Homo sapiens: one gene and its partners. The protein of the gene in region 1 interacts with the protein of each later gene in a pairwise test. Each region holds a gene or a part of one and is shown in the gene's direction. Other genes may lie near its edges.

What was found.
Region 2: the proteins of MORN3 (region 1) and TASOR2 interact in binary tests that used the Homo sapiens proteins (3 or more experiments, as listed by UniProt).
Region 3: the proteins of MORN3 (region 1) and CIMIP2B interact in binary tests that used the Homo sapiens proteins (3 or more experiments, as listed by UniProt).
Region 4: the proteins of MORN3 (region 1) and HOXB2 interact in binary tests that used the Homo sapiens proteins (3 or more experiments, as listed by UniProt).

The regions. Positions count from the first base shown.
Region 1 is NC_000012.12:121,652,655-121,659,737, reverse strand, and holds part of MORN3 (MORN repeat-containing protein 3), read left to right. Parts: intron 1-389; coding exon 390-547; intron 548-5,304; coding exon 5,305-5,464; intron 5,465-6,478; coding exon 6,479-6,663; intron 6,664-6,929; coding exon 6,930-7,004; 3' UTR 7,005-7,010; intron 7,011-7,083. UniProt on the Homo sapiens protein: Assembles a suppression complex (suppresome) by tethering SIRT1 and MDM2 to regulate composite modifications of p53/TP53.
Region 2 is NC_000010.11:5,736,759-5,743,841, forward strand, and holds part of TASOR2 (protein TASOR 2), read left to right. Parts: intron 1-2,859; coding exon 2,860-3,739; intron 3,740-5,338; coding exon 5,339-5,768; intron 5,769-7,083.
Region 3 is NC_000009.12:35,561,324-35,568,755, reverse strand, and holds CIMIP2B (ciliary microtubule inner protein 2B), read left to right. Parts: upstream 1-4,877; 5' UTR 4,878-4,927; coding exon 4,928-4,989; intron 4,990-5,197; exon of another isoform or gene 5,198-5,319; coding exon of another isoform or gene 5,320-5,366; coding exon 5,367-5,590; intron 5,591-5,675; coding exon 5,676-5,881; coding exon of another isoform or gene 5,882-5,913; intron 5,914-6,055; coding exon 6,056-6,107; intron 6,108-6,181; coding exon 6,182-6,376; intron 6,377-6,660; coding exon 6,661-6,749; coding exon of another isoform or gene 6,750-6,888; 3' UTR 6,889-6,925; downstream 6,926-7,432. Other genes in the region: AP-4 complex accessory subunit RUSC2, read right to left, coding at 7,374-7,432. UniProt on the Homo sapiens protein: Microtubule inner protein (MIP) part of the dynein-decorated doublet microtubules (DMTs) in cilia axoneme, which is required for motile cilia beating.
Region 4 is NC_000017.11:48,542,072-48,549,599, reverse strand, and holds HOXB2 (homeobox protein Hox-B2), read left to right. Parts: upstream 1-4,490; 5' UTR 4,491-4,688; coding exon 4,689-5,079; exon of another isoform or gene 5,080-5,642; coding exon of another isoform or gene 5,643-5,706; intron 5,707-5,852; coding exon 5,853-6,532; 3' UTR 6,533-6,945; downstream 6,946-7,528. UniProt on the Homo sapiens protein: Sequence-specific transcription factor which is part of a developmental regulatory system that provides cells with specific positional identities on the anterior-posterior axis.

The DNA.
Region 1 (7,083 bases):
GCCAACATGGAACCCCATCTTTACTAAAACACAAAATTAGCTAAGTGTGTTGGCGCACACCTGTAGTCCTAGCTACTCTGGAGGCTGAGGCAGGAGTATCTCCTGAACCCGGGAGGCAGAGGTTGCAGTGAGCTGAGATCGCGCCACTGCACTCCAGCCTGGGCGACAGAGTGAGACACTGCCTCAAAAAAAAAAAAGAAAGAAAGAAAGAAAGAAAGAAATGGAACTTTCCTGGCCTTCTCCTGGGTACTTGGTGTCTAGGATGATGCGCAGAGCCTGTCCCAGCTCTCTAGATTCGTCTAGTTGGGGGCCCCTGAGGCTCAGGCAGGCACACCACCCCCACCCCCCGGCGGCCATGTCTGCAGCATTGCCCATCTGTGTGTCACCAGGGAAAGGAACACAGGTCTGGAAGAAGAAAGGAGCCATCTATGAGGGGGACTGGAAGTTTGGGAAGCGAGACGGCTACGGCACCCTCAGCCTTCCTGACCAACAGACAGGAAAGTGCAGGAGAGTCTACTCAGGCTGGTGGAAAGGTGATAAGAAATCGGTGAGCAGGCCTGCCAGCCGGGGTGTGTGTGTGTGTGTGTGTGTGTGTGTGTGCGCGCGTGTGTGTTTAGGGGAAGCCGAGAGAGGCCTGGGAGAAAAGAGAGGGGAGGTCTACAGGGAGGAGGACAGGGTTGTGCTGCTCGTGGGAGAAGGAAGGGGTGGGGGAATTGCAAAGTTTCTCAGAACAAAACCCAGGAAACAGGAAGCAACAGAAGGCCAGGGAGGAGCCCACGAAACCCTGCGGTTGCGAGGAGCCAGCCAGGCTTGTGGGGACGAAGTCGCCTCCACCCTTTTCCCCCTCGTTTCCTGGCTTTCTTTTCCCCAGGTATCACTTTCTGAGAATCCCCTTTCTGCTGGGCCTGAATAAAAGGGAGGTAGGAAAAGTGGGAGCAAGAGAGCAGGGGACAGGAGAGGAGGGTCCCGGGGGGCCGAAGCCAGCCAGAGGCGCGTGCTCAGCCCGGAAACACCCAAGCTGGGCACAGGTTCCCTCCATCTACTCCCACAAGTGTGGAGGAATCCTCACCATCAGTCCCAGAGACACTAATAATAAACAGTATTGCAACTGAGCAACTGCTACTGTGAGCCTGAAACACATATTTAAAACTTTTTTTTTTTTTTTTTTTTTTGAGAGGGAGTCTCATCCTGCCGCCCAGGCTGGAGTGCAGTGGCGCCATCTTGGCTCACTGCGAGCTCCGCCTCCCGGGTTCACGCCATTCTCCTGCCTCAGCTTCCCAGGTTGCTGGGACTACAGGCGCCCGCCACCACGCCCGGCTAATTTTTTGTATTTTCAGTAAAGACGGGGTTTCACCGTGTTAGCCAGGATGGTCTCCATCCCCTGACCTCGTGATCCGCCCGCCTCGGCCTTCCAAAGTGCTGGGATTACAGGCGTGAGCCACCGCGCCCGGCCTGAAACACATTTAATATTCAGTTAACTCTCACAGCAACAGCTCATCATCATCATCATCTTCATGCCCATTTTATTGATAAGCAAACAAGCTCGAAGAGATGAGGTGTCTTGTAACTGCCCAAGGGGTTCACCTTGCCGGTGCCTGGCCTTGAGTTGTATTATTACTCAAATCAGTCTCCCCGAACATTCCAGCAGCAGAGTTTTTAAGGATAACTTGGTGGGTGGGGGAAAGACAGTGAACCAGGAGTGCTGATTGGTCAGAGATAAAATCATAGGGAGTCAAAGCTGTCTTCTTGCTCCCCAGACAGAGCCGATTCATCAAGACGGGAATTGCAATAGAGAAAGAGTAATTAACACAGAACTGGCTGTGTGGGAGACCTGAGTTTTATTATTATTATTATTAATTTATTTATTTTTTGAGATGGAGTTTCGCTCTTGTCGCCACGCTGGAGTGCAATGGTGTGATCTCGGCTCACCGCAACCTCCGCCTCCTGGGTTCAAGCGATTCTCCTGCCTCAGTCTCCCGAGTAGCTGGGATTACAGGCATGTGGTACCACACACTGCTAATTTTGTATTTTTAGTAGAGACAGAGTTTCTCCATATTGGCCAGGCTGGTCTCGAACTCCCGACCTCAGGTGATCCGCCAGCCTGGGCCTCCCAAAGTGCTAAGATTACGGGCATGAGCCACCGCGCCTGGCCCTGGGTTGTATTATTACTCAAATCAGTCTCCCGGAACATTCTGGCTGCAGAGTTTTTAAGGATAACTTGGTGGGTGGGGGAAAGAGTAAGCCAGGCGTGCTGATTGGTCAGAGATAAAATCACAGGGAGTCAAAGCTGTCTTCTTGCCCTGAGTCAGTTCCTAGGTGGGGAGCCACAAGATCACATAAATCAGTTTATTGATTTGGGTAGTGCCAGCTGATCCATCAAGTGCAAGGTCTGCAAAATATCTTAAGCATTGATCTTAGGAGCAGTTTAGTGAGGATCAGAATCTTGTAGCTTCCAGCTGCATGACTCCTAAACCATAATTTATAATCTTGTAGCTAATGTTAATCCTACAAAGGCAATCTAGTCCCCAGGCAAGAAGGAGGTCTTCGGGAAAGGGCTGTTACTGTCTTTGTTTAAACTATAAACTATAAGTTTCTCCCAAAGTTAGTTCAGCTTAAGCCCAGGAATGGACATGGACAGCTTAGAGGTTAGAAGCAAGATGGAGTCAGTTAAATTAAATCTCTTTCACTGTCTCAGTCATAATTTTGCAAAGGCAGTTTCAGTCTTGCCTGGAGTCACACAGCTAGCAAGTGGTAGAGCCCAGGGTTTCATGTTCTCTGCTCCCAAATTGTTTATTGGCAAGTAGGAAGAGAAAGCCCTGAATAACCAATTTACGTAGAATATGGTATTAGGAGGGATGTTTTCACAGGGTGCCCAGAGGAAGGTCATCAAGCCCAGCCTAGAGAATTCAGGACAGAAGGCTAAGCACAATGGCTCACGCCTGTAATCCCAGCAATTTGGGAGGCAGACAGGGGTGTATCACTTGAGGTCAGGAGTTCGAGACTAGCCTGGCCAACATGGTGAAACCCCCGTCTCTACTAAATAAAAAACACAAAAAAAATTAGCCGGGCATAGTGGTGTGTACCTGTAGTCCCAGCTAGGGAGACGGAGACATTAGAATCGCTTGAAGCCAGGAGGCAGAGGTGGCAGTGAACCGAGATCACGCCACTGCACTTCAGCCTGGGCAACAGAGTGAGACTCCATCTCAAAATAAATAAATAAATAAATAAAACTATATAATAATAATAATTAGCTAGATGTTGTGGTGCACATCTGTAGTCCCAACTTTTCAAAAGGCTGAGGCAGGAGGATTGCTTGATCTCAGGAGGCTGAGGTTATAGTGAGCTATGGTGGTGCCACTACACTCCAGCCTGGACAACAGAGCAAGACTTGTCTCAAAAAGAGGGAATTCAGGGCAGGCTTCCTGTAGGAGGTGACACTAAAAGATGCTAGGAGTTAGCCAGGAAGAAAAAAAAGGGAGAAAGATGGGAGGCAAAAAAATAGCAAAGGGAACGAGATGTAAAACAGCAGAGTGTGTCTGCCCTGGGACAGGAGTGAGGAGAAGAGTTGCGGGGGCCCTCAGGGATATGTGGGAAATCAGGATTTTGAGGAGTAGACTTGGCTTCTCAACCCAACCTCCTCGGGTGTGATCTGCAAACAGACCTTGTTTCCCTGTGGTTGGACACTAAGTGTGGTGTTTTTTGTTTTTTGAGACGGAGTCTTTCTCTGTTGCCCAGGCTGGAGTACAGTGGCGCGATCTTGGCTCACTGCAAGCTCCGCCTCCTGGTTCACGGCCTTCTCCTGCCTCAGCCTCCCGAGTAGCTGGGACTACGGGCACCCACCACCACACCCAGCTAATTTTTTTGTATTTTTAGTAGAGACGGGTTTTCACCATGTTAGCCAGGATGGTCTCGATCTCCTGACCTTGTGATCCGCCTGCCTTGGCCTCCCAAAGTGCTGGGATTACAAGCGTGAGCCACAGCGCCCAGCCTAAGTGTGGTGTTTTTTGTTTGTTTGTTTGTTTGTTTTTTGAGACAGTCTTGCTCTGTTGCCCAGGTGGGAGTGCAATGGCACGATCTGGGCTCACTGCAACCTCCGACTCCTGGGTTCAAGCAATTCTTCTGCCTCAGCCTCCCAAGTAGCTAGTATTACAGGTGCCCACCACCACACTCAGCTAATTTTTTATATTTTTAATAGAGACAGGGTTTTGCCACGTTGGTCAGGCTGGTCTAAAACTCCTGACCTCAGGTGATCCATCTGCCTCGGCCTCCCAAAGTGCTGGGATTATAGGCGTAAGCCACCACGCCAGGCTAAGTATGGTGTTTATGTTCATTTTTCTGGGTCAAAATAAGAGTGGGAGGGGGGCGAGCATGATCAGATGGGCGATTTTTTTTTTTTTTGAGATAGCGTCTCACCCTGTCACCTAGGCTACCGTGCATTCTCAGCTCACTGCAACCTCCATCTCCCAGGTTCAAGTGATTCTCCTGCCTCAGCCTCCCCAGTAACTGGGATCACAGGCGCCGCCATCACGCCCAGCTAATTTTTTGTATTTTTGGTAGAGATGGGGTTTCACCATGTTGGCCAGGCTGGTCTCAAACTCCTGACCTCAAGTGATCCACCCACCTCAGCCTCCTAAAGTGAGCCGGTGAGCCACAGCGCCCAGCCTAGATGGGCGATTTAAAGAGTCCTCCGGCGCTGTAGGGGCTGCATGGCGCATGGTGTGGTGGGGATGAGAGAGGAGAGGGTGGGTCAGTAAGGAGGGAGTTTAATGACTGGCTGCATGGAGGCGCCAGCAGAGGGACAGAGAGAAACAGAGCATGGGGAGATCCTTCAAGACATTATCGGTGGGCACTATGGCTCACACCTGTAATCCCAGCACTTTGGGAGGCTGAGGCGGGCGGATCACTTGAAGTCAGGAGTTCAAGACCAGCCTGGCCAACATGGTGAAACCCTGTCTCTCCTAAAAATACAAAAATTAGCAGGGCGTGGTGATGCGTGTTTGTAATCCCAGCTTCTCGGGAGGCTGAGGCAGGAGAATCACTTGAACCCGGGGGACGGAGGTTACAGTGAGCCGAGATCACATCACTGCACTCCAGCCTGGGTGACAGAGTGGATCTCTGTCTAAAAACAAACAAACAAACAAAAAAGACAGGATACTCCGCTAAGACACGACCCTCCGCTTGGACGTAGGGCTGAGGAAGAAGGAAGAAGCTGGGGTGTGTGGCTCTAGGGGTGCCTGGGAAGACGGTGGGCTTTCCTGGTGGTGTTGGGGGGCGCCCTGAGTAGTAGCATCTTCGTACTTTCAGGGTTATGGGATCCAGTTTTTCGGACCCAAGGAGTATTATGAGGGTGACTGGTGTGGCAGCCAGCGCAGCGGGTGGGGCCGCATGTATTACAGCAACGGCGACATCTACGAGGGACAGTGGGAGAACGACAAGCCCAACGGGGAGGGCATGCTGCGCCTGAGTGAGTGCCCCACCCCCGCCGGCCCCGCCCACCCGACCACGCCCCCGGCAGCGAGCTGGCCACGCCCATTTGGTCCCACAGAGACAGGCCACACCCCACACTCTTGTCCCACACTGACCCTTGTGTCAATGTGGGACAAGAGAGGAAGAGCACCCTATCTCTCCCCTCAGTCACAAAAGGTCACATATATATGATGCTATTTATATGAAATTTTTAGGACACGCACCTCCACAGAGACAGAAAGTAGACTAATGGTTGCCTAGGACTATGGGGGTGGTGACATTAGTGGGTGTGGGGAATGGCTGCTTAATGGGCACAGGGTTTCCTTTTCGGGTGATTAAAACGTTTTGAAACTAGATAGAGGTAATGGTTGCACAGCATTGTGAATGTACTAAATGCCACTGAACTATACACTTCAAAATGGCCAACTTATGTTATATGAACTTATATCTCAATTTTTAAAAAAAAAGCCAGGCGCAGTGGCTCATGCCTGTAATCCCAGCACTTTGGGAGGCAGAGGCGGGCGGATCATGAGGTCAGGAGTTTGAGATCAGCCTGGCCAACGTGGAGAAACCCTGTCTCTACTAAAAATACAAAAAGTAGCTGCATGTGGTGGTATACACCTGTAATCCCAGCTACTCAGGAGGCTGAGGCAGGAGAATCACTTGAACTCGGGAGGCGGAGGTTGTCACTCAGGCTGGAGTGCTGTGGGGCAATCTCAGCTCACTGCAGCCTCAACTTCTTGAGCTCAAGCCATCCTCCCACCTCAGCCTCCAGAGTAGCTGGGACTATAGGTGCACACCACTATGCCCAGCTAATTAAAAAAATTTTTTTTTTTGCAGAGATGTGGTCTCACTATGTTGCTCAGGCTGGTCTTGATCTCCTGGGCTTATGAGCCTCCCATCTTGGCCTCCCAATGTGTTAGGATTTGCACTGAGCTCTGGAAGAGCGACCCCTGGGGGTCTAGCTTAGTTTGGTGTACCCTGCACCACACCTCCCTGTCCTTTCCCCCAGAGAACGGGAACCGCTACGAGGGCTGCTGGGAGAGAGGCATGAAGAACGGGGCGGGGCGTTTCTTCCATCTGGACCACGGCCAGCTGTTTGAAGGCTTCTGGGTGGACAATATGGCCAAATGCGGGACGATGATCGACTTTGGCCGTGACGAGGCCCCTGAGCCCACTCAGTTCCCCATTCCTGAGGTGGGCAGCCCTCACCAGGGCCCTGTGGCCACACCCAGACAGAGACAGAAGCCAGCATCCCCAGCCATGCCCAGGCCAGATCTGCCAGGCCCAGCCAAGCCCAGACAGGGAACAGACAAGGTTTTGTTTTCAGTCAGGGCATCCCTAGCAAGGGAGGTGGCTCCTGATGAGGCTGGCAGCACCCCACACGGCAGGCAGCGCCAGTCAAGGCTGGCAGCCTGGGTCCTCCATGCTCTCCAAACCAACTTCTTGGTATTTCCCTCCAGGTCAAAATCCTAGACCCTGATGGTGTGCTGGCGGAGGCCTTGGCCATGTTCAGGAAGACAGAGGAAGGAGATTGATGCCAGGTGAGGGGTGGGCACACCTGCCAAGTTCTGATGTGGCTGAGGCTGCTCCAGGGCCCAGAACAATGCACAGATC
Region 2 (7,083 bases), on another chromosome or scaffold:
TAATTTTTTTTCCCTTTGGTATTGATTTTTTTGTGGTGTGTGTGTATTTTTTTTGTTTTGTTTAACGGAGAGACTTCATTCTCTCCTATCTTTCTATGAGTTTTCTGTCTGGTTTTCCTGATTCTACTTTCTCCCTCATCTATTACTAGATGTTACTATCTCACAGAGAGTGAGAATTCAGAGAAAGAAATTGGATTGTTGTTTTGTTTTGTTTTGTTTTGAGATAGAATCTCACTCTGTCACCAGGCTGGAGTGCAGTAGCACGATCTCGGCTCACTGCAACCTCTGCCTCCCAGGTTCAAGCAGTTTTCCTGCCTCAGTCTCCCGAGTAGCTAGGACTACAGGTGCATGCCACCACGCCTGGCTAATTTTTGTATTTTTAGTAGAGATGGGGTTTAACCATTTTGGCCAGGATAGTCTCAACTTCTTGACCTCTTGACCTCATGCTCTGCCTGCCTCGGCCTCCCAAAGTGCTGGGATTACAGGTGTGAGCCACCACGCCCAGCCAGGTTTGTTTTTTTTAGTTTTTTTGTTTTTTTTTTCAACTTAAGCATACCCTGAGATTCTTTAAGTTTTTTCAGATTGTTTTATGACTGAAGATTTTTTTAAAAGCTCATCATGTCATTCAAAAACCCATATGCTGCAGTTTTGGCTTCCATACCAGATTTGAGCTCTTCTGCTTGTCCCTCTCGGGAGTTTATGGTGTGGCTGTACCTCCCCTCTCTGCGTTGTGCCTCTGCTGTTGCCACCGTGCTCCTTCCCCTGCGGCCCTCTGTGCCTCCCCCAGGCAACCTCTGCCCTTCAGGGGCCTGCAGCTAGATTTATCCCCACAGGGAGGCGTTTTCTCATGTTGTGACTGTAACTAATCTCTCACTTCTTTGGGATATTTGAGAACATTCTATAATTTAATTCATACTGTTTTCAATTCATCTGACATGTCTTGGTCCAATCTTTCCAATTTGTAAACATGAGAATAGGTAACATCTTGTGTTCCTAGCAGTGTCATTTGCATTCTTTGTACTGAATTGGCTTCAGATGTTTATTGACAAATTGATTAATGCGAGGAGGTATATAATTGCATACTGGCAGAAAAGTGAGCCCAGAAAATTTAAAGTTTCAAAATGTGTGTTCAAATACAGGCTGATTTGTATTGCAAATGTCTGTAGGTATTGTGCAGCCACATTCCAAGTTAACATTTTTGAATGACTACATTTAAATCTCTGAATTTTTTTCTTAAGCACCTATGTTAATCATTTTACTTCTTATACTTAAAATATCAACGTTTAAGAAGGCAGATGAAACATAGCCACATTGACCTCAGTTTGCAAATTACTGATTTAAATTAGAATCAAATGATAATTTTGAAGTCAGACAGTCCTTTTGTTAATGAAACATGATTTTCTGTCCTTTTTATTCACTGAACTTTTTTTTAATGTAGTTCCTTTGGCATTGTCTTATGTATGTCTTAAATAGAAATTATGGGTGGTGTTTTTTTAATTGGGAACCTGTAACACGTTAATAACTGGGTGATTTATGTGAGACTATAATATGTTAAACTACCATTTTTCTTTATTTTAATACAGTATCTTTTATATTAGGCCTTACTGGTAAGTAATATTTTGTGTAAGGGATAAGTAGATGGAGGCCATAATATTAACAAAGAATGAAATTAGCATCAGATCACAAAATTAATTTTATGTTTCCAGTATACCTGTGGGACTAACAAGACAATTATCTGCTTTGGGTCCTTTTCATCCACCTGTCCCCTTTGAGTTTGCTGTTTTAAATAAAAACTGGGCAGTCGTTGATCAGTTTAACCCTTTCCCCATGTATGTGCATGCCCTTGTCGTTCTAATTGATGACATCATAGGCTGGAGCTGTCTTCTCTTTAAATGTGTTACTCATTGGCCTTGGCTGGCAGGTTGTTAATTCATTTTGGACCTGCTACTATGATAAAGAGGAACATAGTTGGCTTTTCTGGTCATCTGTCTACCTGCAGCAGGGAATCATTGCCTAGCAGAGTTGTGAAGTTTATCCTTCATAATAACAGCATTTAGGAAGGAATAATGAATACGTTGAAAATACCAAGGGAAACCACTGGCAAATGTAAATGTTCTGATTAAGGGCATATGGATAGATTTGATTATCTGTAAAAGGGAACATTGTCAGTAGATTTGCTCTTTCTTGGATAATGTAAAAGGTCAATGTTTTTGGTAATGAAAGTAAAATTTTAAAAGGTAATGGAATTAATTGATGATTCTGAATACTCTTAGGACTTTTCTAATTTTTTATTTCTATCACATCATGTAATTAAAGATCAATATAGTTAAAATCATTTGAACTTAGGTAGTTTCTCTAATAAATCGCTTGTTCAGGGAAATGGTTCCTGAGAAAGTATGTTAGCAAACTCATACACACTTGAAACTTCTACATTCCTGTCCTTATTAGATTGTAAGCTCCCAAGGGCAGGACTCTCATCTTTTTTGGGTTTTTTTGTTTGTACATTTTTTGAGCTGAGCTGTATGTCTTCTGTGTAGATCAGTTCATATGTTTTTGAAGGATAATTTCTTTCTAAATTAATGTACACATTCCTTAAGACTTGTCCCTCTGGTTTAACACATTATAATCTGAGGGTTGAAAGAGACCTTAATCCAATAGAAAATTTTAATATGCAATATGTATAACATAAGTTTTATCTGAGGGTTGGAAGAGACCTTAATCTAATAGAAAATTTTAATATGCAATATATGTTACATAAGTTTTTCTCAGACATGTTGAATTAACCATCATAGTAATATGGCAGAGAGTTAATTCTATGACAAGCAAACATCTCTCTTTTTTTTTTCTTTTATACTGAAGTCAAAGGAGAAACTGCTTCAAAGCTTCAATCAGAAATTTCAAGAGGTTGTCAAGAAGATGGGATTAGCATAAATAGTGTTCAACCAGAAAATACCACAGCGGCTCACAATGATCTTCCTGAAAACTCCATCGTCAACTATGACTCCCAGGCCCTAAATATGTTAGCCGATCTAGCATTAAGCTCTGCTACTTCTTCCACACCAGTATCTGAGGCTAGAAATCTTCACTGTTCCTCTGAATTGCCACAAAATGATGTTTTGCTCTCTAAAGAAAATTCTTTGCGAGGTACATCTGACCATGAATATCATAGAGGAGTTAAAACTCAAAAAGGTGAATTACTACCTAACCCATCTTCTGATAGGAAGAGTAATTCTGGATCAGACTTAACAGTTAGCCAAGATGAAGAAAGCTTGGTTCCTTGTAGTCAGGCCCCTGCTAAAGCCCAGTCAGCACTTACTGAGGAAATGCTAGAATCTTCAGATGCAAGCCAAAGCTCTTCTGTTTCTGTGGAACATTCATATGCCCTGCTCCTTACAGAACATTCAAAGAAACATCTACAGGAGAGAGAGATACTAAGCCCTCTGTTTCCCAGGAATGGGACAAAAAGCCCTGAAGCAGCAACCCCAGTGGGGAAAGTCATGCCATTTCGGCATCAGCCCGGCCTTTTGCTTCAGCAAAAGCCTCCTGACGACCCCGTGGTGAAGCCCAAGGATCGACCACCGTCTGCCCGTGTGAAAAAATCTTCTTGCTCTCGTATAGTGCTTAGCTGTGATGACTCCGTTAAGATCACTTTCAAATGTGAAACAGAATATGCATTCAGTTTAGACAGCAAATATACCAACAACCCACTGGAGAAAACTGTAGTAAGAGCATTACATGGGTGAGTATGAGTGAAACTTAGTGAAAATGGATGAAACTTTTCTGTTGAGATGAATGTAGTGAGATGGGGAAACTTATGCCAAACTCTGGAGAAGGAGAAAGAAGTGTTGTGTTTAAAACCAGTAATTTGATAATAACATCAAGCAAACATGTTTCCTGGCAATTAAGAGTAACAGGCTGGTTTTCCCCCTGTGCTCATGTGGAGAAGTTTTTAAAGATAATTTTAGCCTAATGAATAGCTTTCCATTTTGCAATGCTCCCTCGTAAGCCCTTGTGGCTTTTGAATTTCAATTTTTAGATGAGATCTTAATGTAAAATAGTGTGAGATTTAGAAATAATGCTTTACAGACTGAATTCCAGAAGAAACATTTTAAAAATCACTGTAGCTTGGTAAATTGGTCAGATTGATAGGAGTAAGCAGTTTCACATAAGATTGTTCTATAGATCTCCCTTAAGAAGGAATCAAGTCAGTAATAACAGAGTGGTGAACAGCACAGGCTTTGGAGTGTAGACTAACCTAGATTTGAACCCGGGTTCTTTCCCTTTCTTACCTCCTGTGATCCTGGGCAAGTTTCTTGCTTCTGGACAGTGCTTCTTAATTGTGTGTGCTGCTCATCTAGAGATTTCACTGAACTGCAGATTTTGATGCATTCTCCTTGGGAGAGGCCTGACATTCTGCATTTCTAACAAATTTTCAGGTGATATCAATGGTGGATGACAGTCTGTGGCCAACATTTAATTATGTAGCTGTGTCCTGAGGTTACATATATTGAGATGCACAGTGACTGGCCAGTAGTAGTAATAAATGGTAACCATCACTGTTAGCAAGCATTCATTAGCTATATGAATTGACATTCAGCTCCCTATTAATGAACTGTTTCACATCTGACTATATGGACTCTACAGCTGTCAGGCTTTCTTCTATACACCTGTTCATATATACTCATAAGGGTCATTTCCTTAGAACTTCCTGTTTAGCTATTGCCCAACTCTGCAGCCCCCCTGACTTATGGTACTCCAGCGATCTGCCATCCTTTTGCCTGCCAGGTGGCCAGAAATGTTTTCTATTTCCCCTTACTGTTTCAGGATATTTTGCAGAACTGTAGTCTGAAAATAGTATAGTTCTGTTGAATTGCCCAGAGAGATATTTTATCTTCAGACTTTCTCAATTATTAGAAGAGAGACACAAAAATGGAAAATAAATGAATCAGCCAGACTTAGCAAAAGCATGGTGATGAGGATTTGGGTATTGGCGAAACCATTTCTATAATAAGTATTCTGTGTCCAGAGTGAATTTGTATGGTGTAAAAGACACGTGCTACCCATGTTCAGATCATGGTTCTGCCATACAGGTTTTGTGATTTGAAAGAAGGCAATTACATGTTCTGATTCTCAGTTCCCGTCTCTGTAAAATGAGTGGGTTAGATGGATAATTATTTGTTAAGTCAACTACATATTTACTCATTCATGTTTCATATCTGTAAATTTTAAAAATAAAAACAAAAACTAAGGAATATTGGAGGCACTTGCTTATGATAAGGTAATCAACTAAAATAACCATTTTCAATGATTTTCATGTGTTCTTTCTGTAAACTCTTAGGCCCTGGAATACTGATTTGCCTGATAATGTGGAAGAAGTGAAGCTTTTACTTCATATGTGGGTAGCTCTGTTTTACAGCAATCAGAACAAAATCATACGATCTTCCCGAAAGGTTGTAGAACACAGCAACCCAGCAAAATATGTGTCTATAAATAGCACGTTAGAATCTTGTGAGCTCCGTGAAATTGAGGAGTCCCTTGGTTTGGAAAAATGTTCTGCAGACTCTCTGTTGGAGACTAACGAAATTTCCAGGGCTCATGCTGCTGAAGTATCCTTCCGTGATCCTAACTGCTTGCTTCCTTTCATTAAAACACCACTTACCCAAGGCTTGGAACTCTGTGTACAAAATGAACAGAAAAAAACTTTTGCAAGAGAGTGTGATCCAGACACCCAAGAAGACCAGAATTTCATCTGTTCTTACAATAATGAGGTATGTAAAGCTGAATACCGTTAAATGTTGGCATTATTTTTGAAGAAAAAAATGTTTATATGTAAAATCACATTCAAAACAAGGCATTTTTAAATTTTAGGACAGTGAATTCTCAAGGTATGTAAAGAACTATTACACCAAAAACCTAGTTTTCATGAAGTGTCCTTGAATTGTCTGCAGGTAGAGCTTACCTGCCATCCCGATTGAAAAAAACCAGAGTAGAAAAATGTCACAGGGTCCACATGATCTGGGAGCCCAGCATAATTTGGGGCAAATTGCTTCTTTGCCTAATTTTTAAAAGAGGTGACTTAATACCTATCAAGTCTTATGTAGAATATTGTTTAAGGATCAAATATAGCAATAATAAATCTTAGATATACTTTGATAAACCTTAAAGTAAACTAAAATTAATTGTATTAAAATTATTTTTGAAGACAGATGCTGGAATAGTAAAATGCCAGACCTGTGAAAGAAGACCCATTGCAAATAACTATTTGTAAATATGGAAAATATACTTTGTTTTGTTCCTTGTTCTCAACTGACATTCAACCAGGCCAGATAATCCAAATTTTACCTGGAGCAAATCTAAAAGTTGTTAACAAAATTCTAAGCAAATGAATTGACAAAATTACCTACCTTTTAAAGTTTTCCGCCCAAATTTATTCTAGAATAATATTGCTTGGGTTTGGGCAGCATCTCTGATTCCTGTCTTAAGAAAGAGTAGACAGTGTTCCTATACCCGGGGTCACCGGGGACTTGGAGGTCCTTGGGTGAGCCTCATAGAACCCGTGAATATCTTCAAGTGATTGTCATCATCATGAGAATTAAAGATTTCTGGGTCACTGTGTGCCAGAAAGTAAGAGTTCTAAGCCCTTCACTCATATTAACTCAGTTCATTCTCAAATAAGTTAAAGACTATTAATCTCCCCATTACATAGATGACGAGACTAAAGCATAGAGAAGTAAAGAAATTGCCTAAAGTCACATAGAAAATTGTCAAGCCAAGATTCCAGTCTAGAAAACCTAAATGTTAACTATGTATGTGCTTTTTTTTTCCCCTAAAGATGGGGTTCAGCAGTTCCATCCTATTCTCAAAGAATTACATAAAATCCAGTTAAGAATCACCACCTTAGAATAAGAAAATATAGTCTAGTCAGGGAGATTTAAATTAATACATATATACATGCTAGTTTCTTATAAAATACCATTTGTCGTGGTAATATGTAATTAACTATCATCAGTACTAATTTTAGCAATGATTTTGGCAAGCCTGACTGTTCAAATCAGTGATTCCTAACAATCTCCTTAGTATGTA
Region 3 (7,432 bases), on another chromosome or scaffold:
CCTGCCTCGGCTTCCCAAAGTGCTGGGATTACAGGTGTGAGCCACCACACCCAGCAGGATCAAGTCTATATTCTTAATCATGAGGCCAGTATGTGTTTGAGGCTAAAAGTTGCCTCTGAATTCATCTTTGATTGAATTCTCATTTATTTATAAATAATTGTGTATAACTGGAATTTTTTCTTTGCCCCAAGGGTTAAGGTGTTTTTGTTTTTTTTTTAATTTTAATTTTTATTTCTTTAAGAGACAGGGTCTCACTGTGTTGCCTGGGCTGGAGTGCAGTGGCTATTCACAGATGTGATCATAGCGCCGCCCTACAGCTTCAAATTTCTGGGCTCAAGCCATCCTCCCGCCTCAGCTTCCCAAGCAGCTGGGATTACAGGAATGCACCACCACGCCCAGCTCAAGGGAGTATTTTTAAATGTCTAAGTGTTAGGTTGGTTGTTTGTTTAGCCTATTTTAAAATTTTAAAATTGTGTTTGTGTGAGGAAATGTGGTTTATTGTGCTTCTTGGAATTTTTGAGATTTTTCTTCATGGCCTATTATAAGATCAGTTGTTTTTGTTTAGATCTTCATTGTGGTATTTATTTTATTCTGCCTTTCTCTGTACCTCTGTCTCTTCTTTAAAGTGGTTCGATCACTGAGGTCAGGCATTGTCTGTATTGATCTATAAGGCAACTGCCTAGTAGAAATATTTAATAAGTAGGCTGAATAAATGAATATTGATCCTTGTGGATTTGAGGAGTGTTATATACATAAAAAATCCAGGCCAGGTGCGGTGGCTCACGCCTGTAATTCCAGCACTTTGGGAGGCTGAGGAGGGTGGATCGCTTTAACCCAGGAGTTCAAGACCAGCTTGGACATGGTGAAACCCTATCTCTATAAAAAAAAAAAAATACAAAAATTAGCCGGGTGTGGTGGCATGCACCTGTAGTCCCAGCTACTCTGGAGGCTGAGGTGGGAGGATCACTTGAGCCCAGGAAGCGAAGGTTGTAGTGAGCTGAGATTATGCCACTGCACTCCAGCTTAGGTGACAGAGTGAGACCCTATCTCAAAAAAAGAAAAAAACCAAAAAGGTAGAAAAAGGTAGAATAGAGACCAGGCCATTTCCTTTCCTTCGATCCCTCCAAATACCATGATTCCTTGTCATTTCTACTTGGATTCCCTCCACCACACCTCTTTGGACCTCAAAAGCATAGATTTCAATTGTCATAATCTTTGGTTTGGCACATTCTCATCATTAGTTCATACTTTGTTATAATGTATGCATTATAAGCATTTTTTTTTTTTTGATACAGAGTCATGCTCTGTCACCCAGGCTGGAGTGCAGTGGCATGATCTCGGCTCACTGCAACCTCTGCCTCCTGGTTCAAGTGATTCTTCTGCCTCAGCCTCCCAAGTAGCTGGGATTACAGGTGTGTGCCACCACACCTGGCTAATTTTTGTATGTTTAGTAGAGATGGGGTTTTGCCATATTGGCCAGGCTGGTCTCGAATTCCTGACCTCAAGTAATCTGCCCACCTTGGCCTCCCCAGGTGTTGGGATTACAGGCATGAGACACTGCACCTGGCCCATTATAAGCATTTTTGAAAACATCATCCCAAACAAAAACTGAAACTTTGACAATAACATACATCTAACTATGTGGTTCCCCCTTTCCCACCCCTTTTGTTTCTCACCATCTGAGGTGAGCATTTGAAACCCATTTTTATCATTCCCTTGCTTTCCTTTTTATGCAGTTTTATGCATCTGCATGTATTTTTCAAACTAAAAAAGGTTTTGTGTTGCATGTAATCTTTTGGAGTTTATTCAATTCTTGTTTCAATTTTGGTGGACTGTTGATTTCAGGAATTTTTTCAAAGGTCCTGTGATTTTCTTTTATTCATCCTTGCAGAGGGGATTTATGCTTGCCTAGGGTTGACATACAATCAAATGATTGATTTGGGATCTGTATGAAATTTTATAGCAGTTCCTGGTCAGAATCAAAGGCAGAACAGAAGGCTATAGGCTGCCATTGTGGGGACCCAGCAGGCTGTGTGGACTGAGTGGGGCGCTGTCTCCAGTTAAACATTTTCTCTCCACTGCCACATCCAACACTGGCCACTGGGTGTGGCAGCTCCCATCAGAGCAAGTTGTGGTCATGTTTCTGTGATGTCTGTCCCTGGAAGGAGGCACAGAGGCAGCAAGCATTCCTGTGGTGCCTCAGCTGGCCCCGTCACTCCTTTCTCAGATTAGAACACCCTTCAGGGATCTAGAAATATTCTTTATTCAGATGGAAACAATCATAGTAACAGGCCATTCTACCAATTGGATAGAGCTGTTTCTTCATAAGCCATAAACCTAAGACTAATCCTAATCTGTTTCCTAACTTGTGTTTTAACGCATACCCGGATTCTAACTGCCATGGTCTTTTCTGCAGAATGTGTTCTAGTCCCTACATCCTAATTTATACCCCAACTTCCATTCAAACCTTTCCCTTTTTCAATTTCATGAACCTTTCCCCTGAACCTCTAACATCTGTGACTGCTCCCAGCTCCTTTCCTTCCTCCCATTCCTGCCAAATGCTAGCCGTGAATTGCTGTTTAGTTAGCACTTACCGTAAGCTAGACGCTGGGGTCATTGCTCATTGTGTATCATCTCAGCTAGCTGATATCCTACTCTATGAGATGGTAACATTAGTTTTTCCATTTTACAGATGAGAAAACTGAGGCTCAATGAGATGAATTTGGACAAAGTCTATATCTCTGGTGAAGCTAGGATTTGATCTAGTGGTGTTTTTTTGTTTTGTTTTGTTTTTGAGACGGAGTCTCACTCTGTTGCCCAAGCTGGAGTGCAATGTGCGATCTCAGCTCACTGCAAGCTCCACCTCCTGGGTTCATGTGATTCTCCTGCCTCAACCTCCTGAGTAGCTGGGACTACAGGTGCCCACCACCACGCTTGGCTAATTTTTGTATTTTTAGTAGAGACAGGATTTCACTATGTTGGCCAGGCTGGTCTCGAACTCATGACCTTGTGATCCTCCTGCCTCGGCCTCCCAAAGTGCTGGGATTAAGGGTGTGAGCCACCGTGCCTGGCTGTTTTGTTTTTTAAAGTTATGATGCCTTTGGCTGTAAGTGAAAGAAAACTTAAAGTGGCCTTAATAATGAAATTTACTATTTGACATAAAAAGGCTGATTAATTCCATGGCTCTACATTACCCTCAGGACCCTGGCCTTTCTCCTCTACCATCCATCCTTGATGTGTCCAGGACTTGTCTTCAGGTTAGCTTTCCACAAGGCTTCCACATGCCTGCCAGCATTCCAGCCTCACATCCCCCAAAAGTCTAGGGGCAGGAATGGACATCGTTTCGTCTTGCGCATCTCTGTCTCTCTCACTTGCTCTAATTTGATGTGAATCTTTTCTTTAAGAGCAAAGAAACTTTTCCCAGGACCCTCCCCTGCCCCAGCAGATTTCCCCTCATATTATCCAGAATGCTGGAAGCCCGTGCCTAAGCGGTCATGGGGAAGGAGCATGGGACCACGCTTAGACTAATCCAGCTCATTCCTCCAGGCTGGCTCTCCAAGCCTCCCTGATGCAGTTTCTGGCTCCTCGGAAGAAAGGAGATGGGGGTCAGGAATAGGTATAAGCTGTGATAGTGTCTGTCACAGAATCCCAAGTCTGGTTGTTAAGCTTGACACACTGCTGCTATTCTGGGCTTGCCCCTCGGCTCCCATCCTCACTCTAACATATTTCCTCAGCTGTGAGGTAAGTCCCCACAACTCTAAATGACACATTCTAAGGCTGTCCTTGGCAGAACAGTGAGGAACATGAAATGTGTGCCTTGGAGCCCAGTGCTCTTATGTAATTCCCCTGGGATGTCAGTGCCGTCCTTGGTCAGCGCAGGCATGGTCACTGGAGGTGGGGAGAAGAGCAGAGCTCTGCCTCAGAAACGTGGGCCCTGAGCCCTCAGCCTGGCCCTGACCCAGCCCCAGAACTTTTTGTTTTGTTTTGTTTTTTGAGGTGGGGTCTGGCTGTGTTGCCCAGTTTGGACTGAAACTCCCGGACCCAAGTGATCCTCCCACCTCAGCCTCCTCAGTACGTTGATGTGAGCGTGGCTGCACCCGGCCCAGAGTTGGGTTTTAAACATGTTTCCCCGTCCTCTGAGATCTCATCTTCCTGGTCTGTGCTTTTTCTTCTCTTAGAATCCGAATTTTTTATTTTATTTTATTTTTTTAACAAATTCTAACTTGCTCCCTAGTGTTACCGCCCACACCTACAACAACTTTATCCTGTTTCCTTCCCTCAACCCCCACAGCTTTTCTGGCTCCCATGGAGTGCACACTCGGCCACTGTGGCCGGAGCCTGGCAGAGCCTGGCTCATTTGTTGAATGGATGACTCTGATTATAGCAGGTATTCAGTAAGCCACTCTTGTTAAATTATTGAAAATAAACGATGTTACTCCCTAGAGGTGTCTAGGTTCCTTTTTTTCCCCCATCACCTGTCCTCTTTCACCTCCCCTCTGGGCCCTGGCTTCCCTCAAAGATCCTTTCTCCAGGTCCCCCATCTCCTTTGATGAAGACTCATGAGGAACACAGTGTCCACCTCTCAGGCAGGCGCTCAGGAAGGAAGTCGCTGAGACAGAGCTCAGTGGCCCGAATGGTTTCTGCTCCCTCACCTCCCACGTCCCACCTCCCACGTCCCACCTCAGGGCTTCCTTCGGTTCGGGCCCTGCCCCACGAGCAGGACCACCTTTGTCCTGGACAGACAGACCTGCTAGCCTCTGCTCTACAGTTCTGCCGGCCTTCGCCCTGGCTGTCCTCACACGAGTGCCCCCTCCCTTCTCTCCTCCCTTAGCCCCGCCTCCTTCCTCTAGCCCCACAGCCCTGGACACGGTACACACAGACCAGAGCCTTGGCTCAAAGGCAAACAAAAGGAAATGCCCGGCTCCCCATGGCTGTGGCCAGCACCTTCATACCAGGGCTCAACCCTCAGAACCCTCATTATATCCCAGGGTAAGACTCCCACTTAGCGCTCCCCGCTTGCTGCTGGGAGTAGGGGTATAGGGTGGAGGAATTAAGCTGCTTAGAGCATGGGGCCAAGCGGACAGGTTGGTTTGGGAGGCTGAGGTCTCTATGGTGGTGGATGGAAAAGGAGAAGCAAGGGACTAGTGAGACACCGGGTCTGCCCCAAAGCTTTGTGTTGTTCTCTCCATGGGAACAGGGTAACAGCAGAGGAAGGATCGAAAGCCCAGGCAGAGAACTTAGAAATGCCTGCTCCAAATATATACACTGCTGAGTCCAGAAAGATCAGGGCTTCAGAGGTCTCCGCTTCTGCCTCTGGGGATGGCGGGGCAGGGCGATTCTGGTGAGTGGGAGAGTCTGTGCTGCAGGTACACTGGACACTGCCCACTACTTCGGTTCAGCGTGGGCCAGACCTATGGGCAGGTGACTGGTCAGCTACTTCGAGGCCCTCCTGGCCTAGCCTGGCCCCCTGTCCACCGCACACTTCTGCCTCCCATTCGGCCTCCAAGATCTCCTGAGGTTCCCAGGGAGAGTCTACCTGTCAGGCGTGGGCAAGAAAGGCTCAGCTCCAGCATGATCCCTGGGTACACAGGTTTGTACGCAGGTATGCACAGGTGCCCCTCCCAGGAGCATGTGTTCCAAACACTAACGAGTCTTCCTTGTCCCTGCCTGCCCAGGTTTTGTACCCCGGGCACAGTTCATCTTTGCCAAGAACTGCAGCCAGGTCTGGGCCGAGGCTCTGAGTGACTTTACTCACTTGCATGAAAAGCAAGGGAGTGAAGAGCTACCAAAGGAGGCCAAGGGAAGAAAGGACACAGAGAAGGACCAGGTGCCAGAGCCGGAGGGGCAGCTGGAGGAGCCGACACTGGAGGTGGTGGAACAAGTGAGACCAAGAAGCTGGTGGGGAGTGCAGAGGTGTGGGAGTGGGGGTCTTACTGTGTGTCCGGGCAGTGGGGGCAGCATGAGTAGTGTGGCTGTGGGTTCAGGGGATGTGCACTTGATTGTCAGCTCCACCTCCTTGGGAGATTGTGTGACAGCACAGGGGCTTCTCTCACAGGCTTCTCCCTACTCCATGGATGACAGGGACCCTCGGAAGTTCTTCATGTCAGGTGAGAGCTGGGGGGTCAGGATCAGAGGCGTGGGGAGGCCCCAGGATGCCTTGGCTCAGTGTCCCCATCCTCAGGCTTCACTGGCTATGTGCCCTGCGCCCGCTTCCTCTTCGGCTCCAGCTTTCCTGTGCTCACCAACCAGGCACTGCAGGAATTTGGGCAGAAGCACTCACCAGGCAGTGCCCAGGACCCCAAACATCTCCCCCCACTTCCCAGAACATACCCTCAGAACCTGGGTCTTTTACCTAACTATGGGGGCTACGTGCCAGGTGAGAAGAGCCCCCGGGGAGGCTTTGGGGACTGGAATGTTTGTTTGTATGGGTATGGGGTGGGTTGGGTGGTTTGTGGGGGTTGAAACTAATAGATATGGGAGGGCTCAGATCATGTGGTTCAGCTTTATTATCAGGCAGAAAAGGAAACCGAGGTAGCTACCCACAGTGGGGAATTAGGGCCAGATTTTAGAGGGCTGTTTGGAGGTCTAGCCAACTGGCTGAGAATTAAATGGCTTTGCCATGCCACTTGCTACATGTGACAGACTCTCTTGGCCACACAGGGTATAAGTTCCAGTTTGGCCACACATTTGGCCATCTCACCCATGATGCTCTGGGCCTCAGCACCTTCCAGAAGCAGCTCTTGGCTTAGGCCACTGGACATCAAGTTCCCTTCCCTTTTCATCCTATCCCAGCCATCCTTTTGGAAGGGAGAGAGGTGGGTGGGAGGGTGGGAGGGTGGGGGAACACAAAGAGAAAATGGTTTGGAGGCTGAGCACCTTTTTTATTAATAGGTATAATAAATAAATAAATAAATACATAAACAGACGCCTGGGCTCCTCCTCCCTCTTCTGATGACCAGGCACTGGCCACAGCCTATTTACAGCTGGGGGGCTTAGGGATCTGGCCCCAATACTGTTACCCATCCTCATCTCCACCTGGCCTAGGGAACCCTGTAGATGGCTTTCTGGGCCACCCGCCTCCAGGGGGACTTGCTTGTCTTCACCCATGGAAGGGTTGGCCCAGACGGGCCAGGGGAATCCTGGCAGCCCAGTGCTGTGTCCCATCCCTCTCCTGGGTGGAGGTCTGGACAAGGTCACTGGGACAGTTAAGGGGGCGTAATTAATACTGAGCACAGGGAGCAGGTGCCAGCACAGGGATACGTGGCCCCAGCTCTCAGTCTACTCTGCAGCCAAGCCAATGGCTTGGGAAGGGCTCTCGGGCTCTGAGTCTGGGGGTTATGAGGGTCCCTGAGGCCACCAGCATGCACAGGGCCTCAGTTTTGGCTGCTTCCAGGGGTTGGACTTGGAGTTGGGGTCAATGTCACGTAGGCCA
Region 4 (7,528 bases), on another chromosome or scaffold:
ACTGAAGGTTTGCCCATTCTGCTGCCTCCATCTCAGCTCCAGCTCCATCCCCCTCTCCACAGAAAGCAGTTGGTGACACGAGGTTCTATACTTTTCTTCTGTTGCTCTCTTGACTTAACGTGAAAACAGGGTATATTTGAACAAACTGTCCCAGGCAGGGGCTGGGCAGGGCCTGTGTGCCTTGCTCAGCCTCCTGACAGGACACTTTTGTTGCACTTAGAATTTACATTTTAATGGATGTAAAAACAACTGTGAGAGATGTCTGGGCCTGCAGAAGTCCAGCATTGCTCAAAAAAGCGTGTGTTCTAGTGAACATTTTCATATATATTTATTGGTTATAGCCTGTTAAAATATTTTCTTTTTTGTATTATTTATCCCCCTACATTATGTATTTATATGAGGGAAAAAAAGGAAAAAATTGTACTTTTTTAGTATTTACCTGTTACAAAGGACATTGTGTTTCCTGTCATGTAAAACCAGCTATTTTAGTTACTATTGTACTCTAGAAAAGAGCTGTAGATTTATGTTAAACTCGTACTTACGAACAATTGTAATTAGTTCTAAAAGGCATGAACTCAGCTCCTAATCGTCACTGTATAGTCCTGAATTTGTAGAACTAGAGTTAATTCCCTCTTGGAACTTTCTTTGTTCTTCAGTAGTTACTTTTTTCCTTACCTAAAAGGGTTGTCTGTCAAACAATTCTTGAATAAACTTTCTGTTATCAATTTTATCTTGTCCTGGTGGTCCAATTTAGATAGCAGAGCAAGGCTGCTGACTGCCAAATTTCCCCCAAGGGAAGAAGGACAAGGACAAGGACACTGAAGACCCTTCCCTGGCCTTTTTGTCCACTGCCCAGGTTCCTGTCTCCCCCTTGATATGTCTTAAGTTTAAATACCATTTTCTCACTCATAAGAGCCTGTAACATTTTGCCAACTTCTTCAGCTGTGGTTTAAGTAGCAAGTTGGGAGGTAACGGGGGACTCTTGGATGCTCTCTGTAGGTTTTTCTGTTTGGCCTGTATGCCTCTAGGTTTTTCATTCATTGACCTTTCGTCTGTTAGCTCCTTTGGCCACAGCGTCCATGCACCCCCCACCCCCCACCCCTTCCCACCACCACCAAGAAAATCTGGCCGATTACGGTTTCTTCCACGAAACCTAAACTTCACAATCCTCTTCCGGAGCCACAAAGAAGGTGTCACGTGACCCGAAGCCCAACCACCATTGGGTCTAAAATGAAAACAAAGAAAAATGATTAATCTAAAAAAAAAAAAAAAACAAAACTGAGGCCTAGACTTCTCAGGTCAAACTTTAAAACTAAGTAAAATTAAATCACTAAATAAAACTCGAGGCGGAGGGAGGGGAAGCACGTTCGATTTCCCCTGCCAGAGAAAGGGGAGAGGAGGGTGGGAGAAGCTGTTGGATCCAAGCGTAAATAAAACGGTCCCCAGGCTAATGTGCGGCTCTGTTTCCATCATCCTTGGGAAAACTTCATTTCTTAGTTGTGGTTCCATAAAAGTTTTATCACATTGGAGTGAAAATAGAGAAGGTCTGTCAAAGATGAAATGTCACCGCCGAGTCGCTGGAGCCGATAAGAGCGAGAAGACAGGGCGGCTGAAATATGGAGCTAATTCGTTGAAAGAGAAGCGATGGCTGCTTGCTGAAGAGCTGCATAATTCTAATTGTAAGCGATGTGCCCGCATTGCTTAATTAGGAGCATATATTTGGTGGTAGTGATGTTGGGGGAGTGAGAATCGTTCCAGGCCCTGCCTTAAAGAGAGGGCTGATTTTCATTTTTATGTTGCATCCTGGCAGTCCAAGGTTAGTAATTATAGTCTTTATGCAACAATAAATAACAATAAAAAAGCAACCTGAACTCTACGCCCTCCCCCTTCCCCACCACCAAGTAGGATTTTAACTGGACTCATCCAAGCAGCAAGCAATTTAGCATTGGGTCAGGCTATAATTTAAAGGCATAAGAGCGTGCAAAGTTTGATTGGGATCAAATAACGCTCAAGGGTTTTTCTTTCTTTCTCTTTCTCTCTTCTTCCTTGAATAACATTTTCTGAATGATATAACTAGATGAAGCACCATGTTTGGCTCTGGGGCTGGGTTGGGTTGTTATTTATCTAGCAGGAAAGAGGCCAAGAAAGAGAATTTAGCTTAAGTTTGAAAAACAGAGCTTTGGCTCGAAGCTGGAATTGCAAACAAGAAAAATAAGAACCAACTTGGCTTGGTGTTCCCTATCCTTCTCTTTGGAAGATTCCAGGCGCTCAGCTAAAGCAGCCAAAGACGTGGGTAAAATATCCGTGCTGTTAAATTCACAGCAGGACAGGGGGGCGGGGGAGGGATGTCTCTGAAAAGGAGGGTTCTCTGGGCCCCTTTTAACACCCAAGTTTTCCGCTGTTTGCTAATCTGGCCATAAAATCTGTCAGTGAGGGTTAGAGAGAGCTGTATTTCCTGCAGGGACAGTCTGCCCGAGTTGCCTGAGATAAGCTCTGGATCCTTCAGCCAGCTACAGAAGCTGTTGCTAAACTTTCAGAGGTGTTCAAGGGGGTGGCCAGAGGGAGAACCCACTCTCAGGCCTCCCTGCATGACTTCCAGACAGCTACTATTTGGATTATTCTATGCCCACCCCCATCCACACCTCTAAATGGCAAAAATTGTTTTCTTTGGAGCCTAGTTGCACACTACTGTCGCTGGCCACTTTGCCCAGGTCAGAGCAGCTCTCTCTGTTCTGAGCCCTCCAGAGCATGCCTCCTCGGTCCCTGCAGCCCCCACCTCCAACTCCCCTTTCTCCATCCTCCTCTCCCCCACCCTCATGCTTCTACTCAGACTTCTCTGTCCTTCTTTTTAAGTACTCACGCAGATGTTACACTGACAGAAAGTTTCTAGTTCCAGCTCCGGGCTCAGTTGCCATTTCTCTGCTAACCAGCCTTCTCCTCCTGGCTGGGCAGCAGAGAGAGAGGAGGGGGAGGGGAGGCCAAAGCCATGGGAGTTCTCCAGGCAAACTTTCCACCCAACTTAGCGCTTTCCCTCTGTCCCCATTTCCCATCTGTTTCCCAGCTCTCCCAGAATCACCCTTCTCTTTTGCACCCCCACCCCCACCCCCAGGCCTTTTTAAGGGATGTGAAATTTTGGCTGTTCGCTCTGCTTTCCCAAAGAGCCAAATTCTTTGATGCAATCGGAGGGAGCTGTCAGGGGGCTAAGATTGATCGCCTCATCTCCTCTCCATCCGTCTGACCCACTTATTTAAAAATCTTCCCCCAGATCGACTTTTCATTTTCTGCTTTGAGGCCTAGTTTCCCACCAATTGCTTGGGGCTCAGAGTCTTGTGCCCTCTCCCCATAGTAAATTACAACACTCTAAACTTCAGACTATCTTGGTCTCCTCAAAATAAAATAAATTTTAAAAACATTTTCCCCCAGCAGCCAGAAATGGAATATCATCTCAGTGGTCATTATTTCCACCCCTACCATCTTCAGGGAATTCTTCCTTGTCAGGGATTCTTTTTTTTTTTTTTTTCTTTTTTCTTTTTTAACTAGCACAATGGCAAAAATGGGAGGGAAAGTCTCTTTGTCCTAGGGGAAAATCTCCCCACCACACTCATGCACACACATAACGCTGATCTGAACTTTGAGAGTGCTCTAAGTTAAACCAATGGCTACCTCAGTTCTTGTTCATGTCCCTGGATATGGATACAGATACAAGCTTGAGGCTTGAGTGGGTACATGCACATCTTAGACTCTGCCTGTTTTTGGGGGATGTCACAGAGAAGCATGGAAGCCTGAAAGTGAGGAAAGCAGGGGTACATAAGGGGCAGAGGCAGTGCTGCAAACACTGGGCAGAGAAGAGAACCCAGACCATACAGCGATGGAGGCCAGAGGCCCAAAAATGCCCCTTATGCTCCATCTCACTCCTATGTGTCTGCCTGGGAGTTCCTGTCCATTTCCCAAGATTTAACTGTTGTTTTTGGAGGGTAACAGGGATAGTGGTGTGATGATTGTAAATCTCTTTCTTATTTTCACCTTAATACTGACCTTTTTCAAAGAGTGGAAGCCTCTTTCGACTCCCTCTTCCTCCAACGCGGAGATCCTCACTCATCTTTTCCTGGGGAAGGGGAGAAGGGAAGGGGATGCTGCTGGCCACGTAAAGAAGGCCTTAATTTACTCTATTAAAATACTTGGAAAAGAGGAAGGTTTCTCCCTTAGAGTCTCTTCTTTTCCAGGCTTCTGAAACCTTCTAACCTTCGAAGGGGATGAGGAAAAGGTTCCTCTAGCTTTTCTGGAGAAACGGAGGCATTGGGGAGAGAGCATGTGAGGCACTGGTGTAGGAATGGGGGCTCATGGTGTCCTGGTCGTGGTCCTCTGGTGTTTTTGAATCAATTAAACCAAATAATGCTCTCTGTTTTCCACCAGGCCCAGACGAGCGATTGGCGGAGGCCGGTCCCGTGACCACGAATTCCCTGTAATTTCGCTGGAGTCCTGGGTTTAATAGAGAGAGTCCCCATACGCTTGTATTTATCAGCAATATACAATTATAAAGGCCCAAAATTAAAAAAAAGAGAGACCGAAATCTCCCCCTCCCAAAATCGCTCCATTACATAAATCGGGGGGGGTGCAGGAGGGGGGTCCCTTCCGATCCTCCCTCCTGACGCCCCCCCCAGCAGCCCCCTCCCCCACCATTGAAAGCCATGAATTTTGAATTTGAGAGGGAGATTGGGTTTATAAACAGCCAGCCGTCGCTCGCCGAGTGTCTGACTTCCTTCCCCGCTGTCTTGGAGACATTTCAAACTTCATCAATCAAGGAGTCGACATTAATTCCTCCTCCTCCTCCTTTCGAGCAAACCTTCCCCAGCCTCCAGCCCGGCGCCTCCACCCTTCAGAGACCCAGGAGCCAAAAGCGAGCCGAAGATGGGCCTGCTCTGCCGCCGCCACCGCCGCCGCCACTCCCCGCTGCCCCCCCGGCCCCCGAGTTCCCTTGGATGAAAGAGAAGAAATCCGCCAAGAAACCCAGCCAATCCGCCACGTCTCCTTCTCCGGCCGCCTCCGCCGTTCCGGCCTCCGGGGTCGGATCGCCTGCAGGTCGGTAAGCGTGGTGGGGGTGGGGTGAGGGGCAGCTAGAAGAGGGGGAGAAAAAGCAGTGGAAGGAGGTTTAAAAAAAATGGTGGCGAGCCTGTTGGGGTTCCTTACCCCCTCCATTCCTGGGATGGGGAAGTAGAATATCCCACTGGGGTTCAGGCCTGGCCGCTAACAGCGTCTTTTTTTTTTTCTGTCTCTCTCTCTCTTTCTCTCCCTATGGCTGATTTTGGAAGCTGGTTGGGGAAACGCCTTTTTTTCTGCTAGAAGAAAATGATTTGATTGAGGTTTTCACCCGTATCTGTGTAGGGGAATGAGTATGTTGTTGCTGGGATAGACCCTAGAAGCAGAAAAGATTCGGTCCTTTCTGCCCCAACTCTAGGAGAAGAGGAAGAATTCAGAGCTAGGGAGGAAGAGGGGTGAAGAACAATCTTTCTGACCCTCGCTCCGGTTGAGTTGGAAAGTTCCGAATTGAGGGGTCCACTGGGAGGGCTTGGGAGGGGGATCTGAGGTTCCGGCGCCGAAGGGAGCCGCTCTCCGCCCCCTGCGTGGCCCGTGGGCGGCTCTGAATGCTTTGCCCTGACCCGGGCCGGGGCTGTAGACTAGAGAGGGAGAGAAGAAAACCCAAAAGCAGTAAAGCGAGCGGCTTTGGGGTGGGGGCGGGGGTGGGGTGGCGAGGAAGGGGAGAGGTGATACTGGTTTTGGAGGATGGGGTAGTCCGAACTGAGGTTGGGCTGAGTACACGGCCCGCTATGACGCCGAGCCTGTTTTCCCTGCAGATGGCCTGGGACTGCCGGAGGCTGGTGGCGGCGGGGCGCGCAGGCTGCGCACGGCTTACACCAACACGCAGCTGCTGGAACTGGAGAAGGAATTCCACTTTAATAAGTACCTGTGCCGGCCACGCCGCGTCGAGATCGCGGCCTTGCTGGACCTCACCGAAAGGCAGGTCAAAGTCTGGTTTCAGAACCGGCGCATGAAGCACAAGCGGCAGACGCAGCACCGAGAGCCGCCGGATGGGGAGCCTGCCTGCCCGGGAGCCCTGGAGGACATCTGCGACCCTGCCGAGGAACCCGCGGCCAGCCCGGGCGGCCCCTCCGCCTCGCGGGCGGCGTGGGAAGCCTGCTGTCACCCGCCGGAGGTGGTGCCGGGGGCCTTAAGCGCGGACCCCCGGCCTTTAGCCGTTCGCTTAGAGGGCGCAGGCGCGTCGAGTCCCGGCTGCGCGCTGCGCGGGGCCGGCGGGCTGGAGCCCGGGCCATTGCCAGAAGACGTCTTCTCGGGGCGCCAGGATTCACCTTTCCTTCCCGACCTCAACTTCTTCGCGGCCGACTCCTGTCTCCAGCTATCCGGAGGCCTCTCCCCTAGCCTACAGGGTTCTCTCGACAGCCCGGTCCCTTTTTCCGAGGAAGAGCTGGATTTTTTCACCAGTACGCTCTGTGCCATCGACCTGCAGTTTCCCTAACCTGTTTCCTCCTCCCGGTCCTTTCGACCCCCGCGCTCCTTGGCCGTCTACTGGAAAAATCGAGCCTCTCCCACCCTCAGTCGCATAGACTTATGTGTTTTGCTAAAATTCAGGTATTACTGAATTAGCGTTTAATCCACTCCCTTTCTTCTTCTTCTAAAATATTGGGCACTCGGTTATCTTTTAAAATTCACACAGAAAAATTCCGTTTGGTAGACTCCTTCCAATGAAATCTCAGGAATAATTAAACTCTAGGGGGACTTTCTTAAAAATAACTAGAGGGACCTATTTTCCTCTTTTTTATGTTTTAGACTGTAGATTATTTATTAAAATTCTTTAATAATAGGAAAAGGGGAAAGTATTTATTGTACATTATTTTCATAGATTAAATAAATGTCTTTATAATACCAAAACGAGTGTTTGTGTTGGGACCTAAACTCTTTCCCCGCGGCCCCAAGGCCGGTCCTCACCCCTCCAGGACCTGTGCGAAGTTGATTAGGTTCAGCGGCCCATATGGCAGCAAAGCCTCCAGGGCCGGCGAAGTCCGGGTGGTACAAAGGTGACCCGATTGATGGCCGCTTCGCCCACGGCTCCGGCAAAAGTCGGGAGTTTGCAGGAAGCTGGGTCACCTCCCCGCCCCTCAGCAGAGGGTCTTTGGTCCTGAGCGGGTGGTTCTGGGGCCTCTGCTTGGAAATAGAGATGGGCAGGTCGAGGGAGAGAGTGTACAGCGAACAGAGGAGGGTGAAAGGAGAGGAAGCCTGTGGACAGTCTTCAGGGTCGTGGCGGGGGCAGAAGTTTACTGGAATTGGGAACAATCCAAGGGCTTCCTAGGCTTTTGCTTCTTATGACCGAAGCCGGTGTAGGACCTTTTTCCGAACTCAAGAAGCCTAGGGACGCGAGGCCTGGGGCTTGAGCCGGGCCTCTTTGGGAGCTGTAGGTGGCTCTCCAAGGAGTGGAGTGGGGTCGGGGATTTTCTCGGGAAGCAGGGTCCCGCAC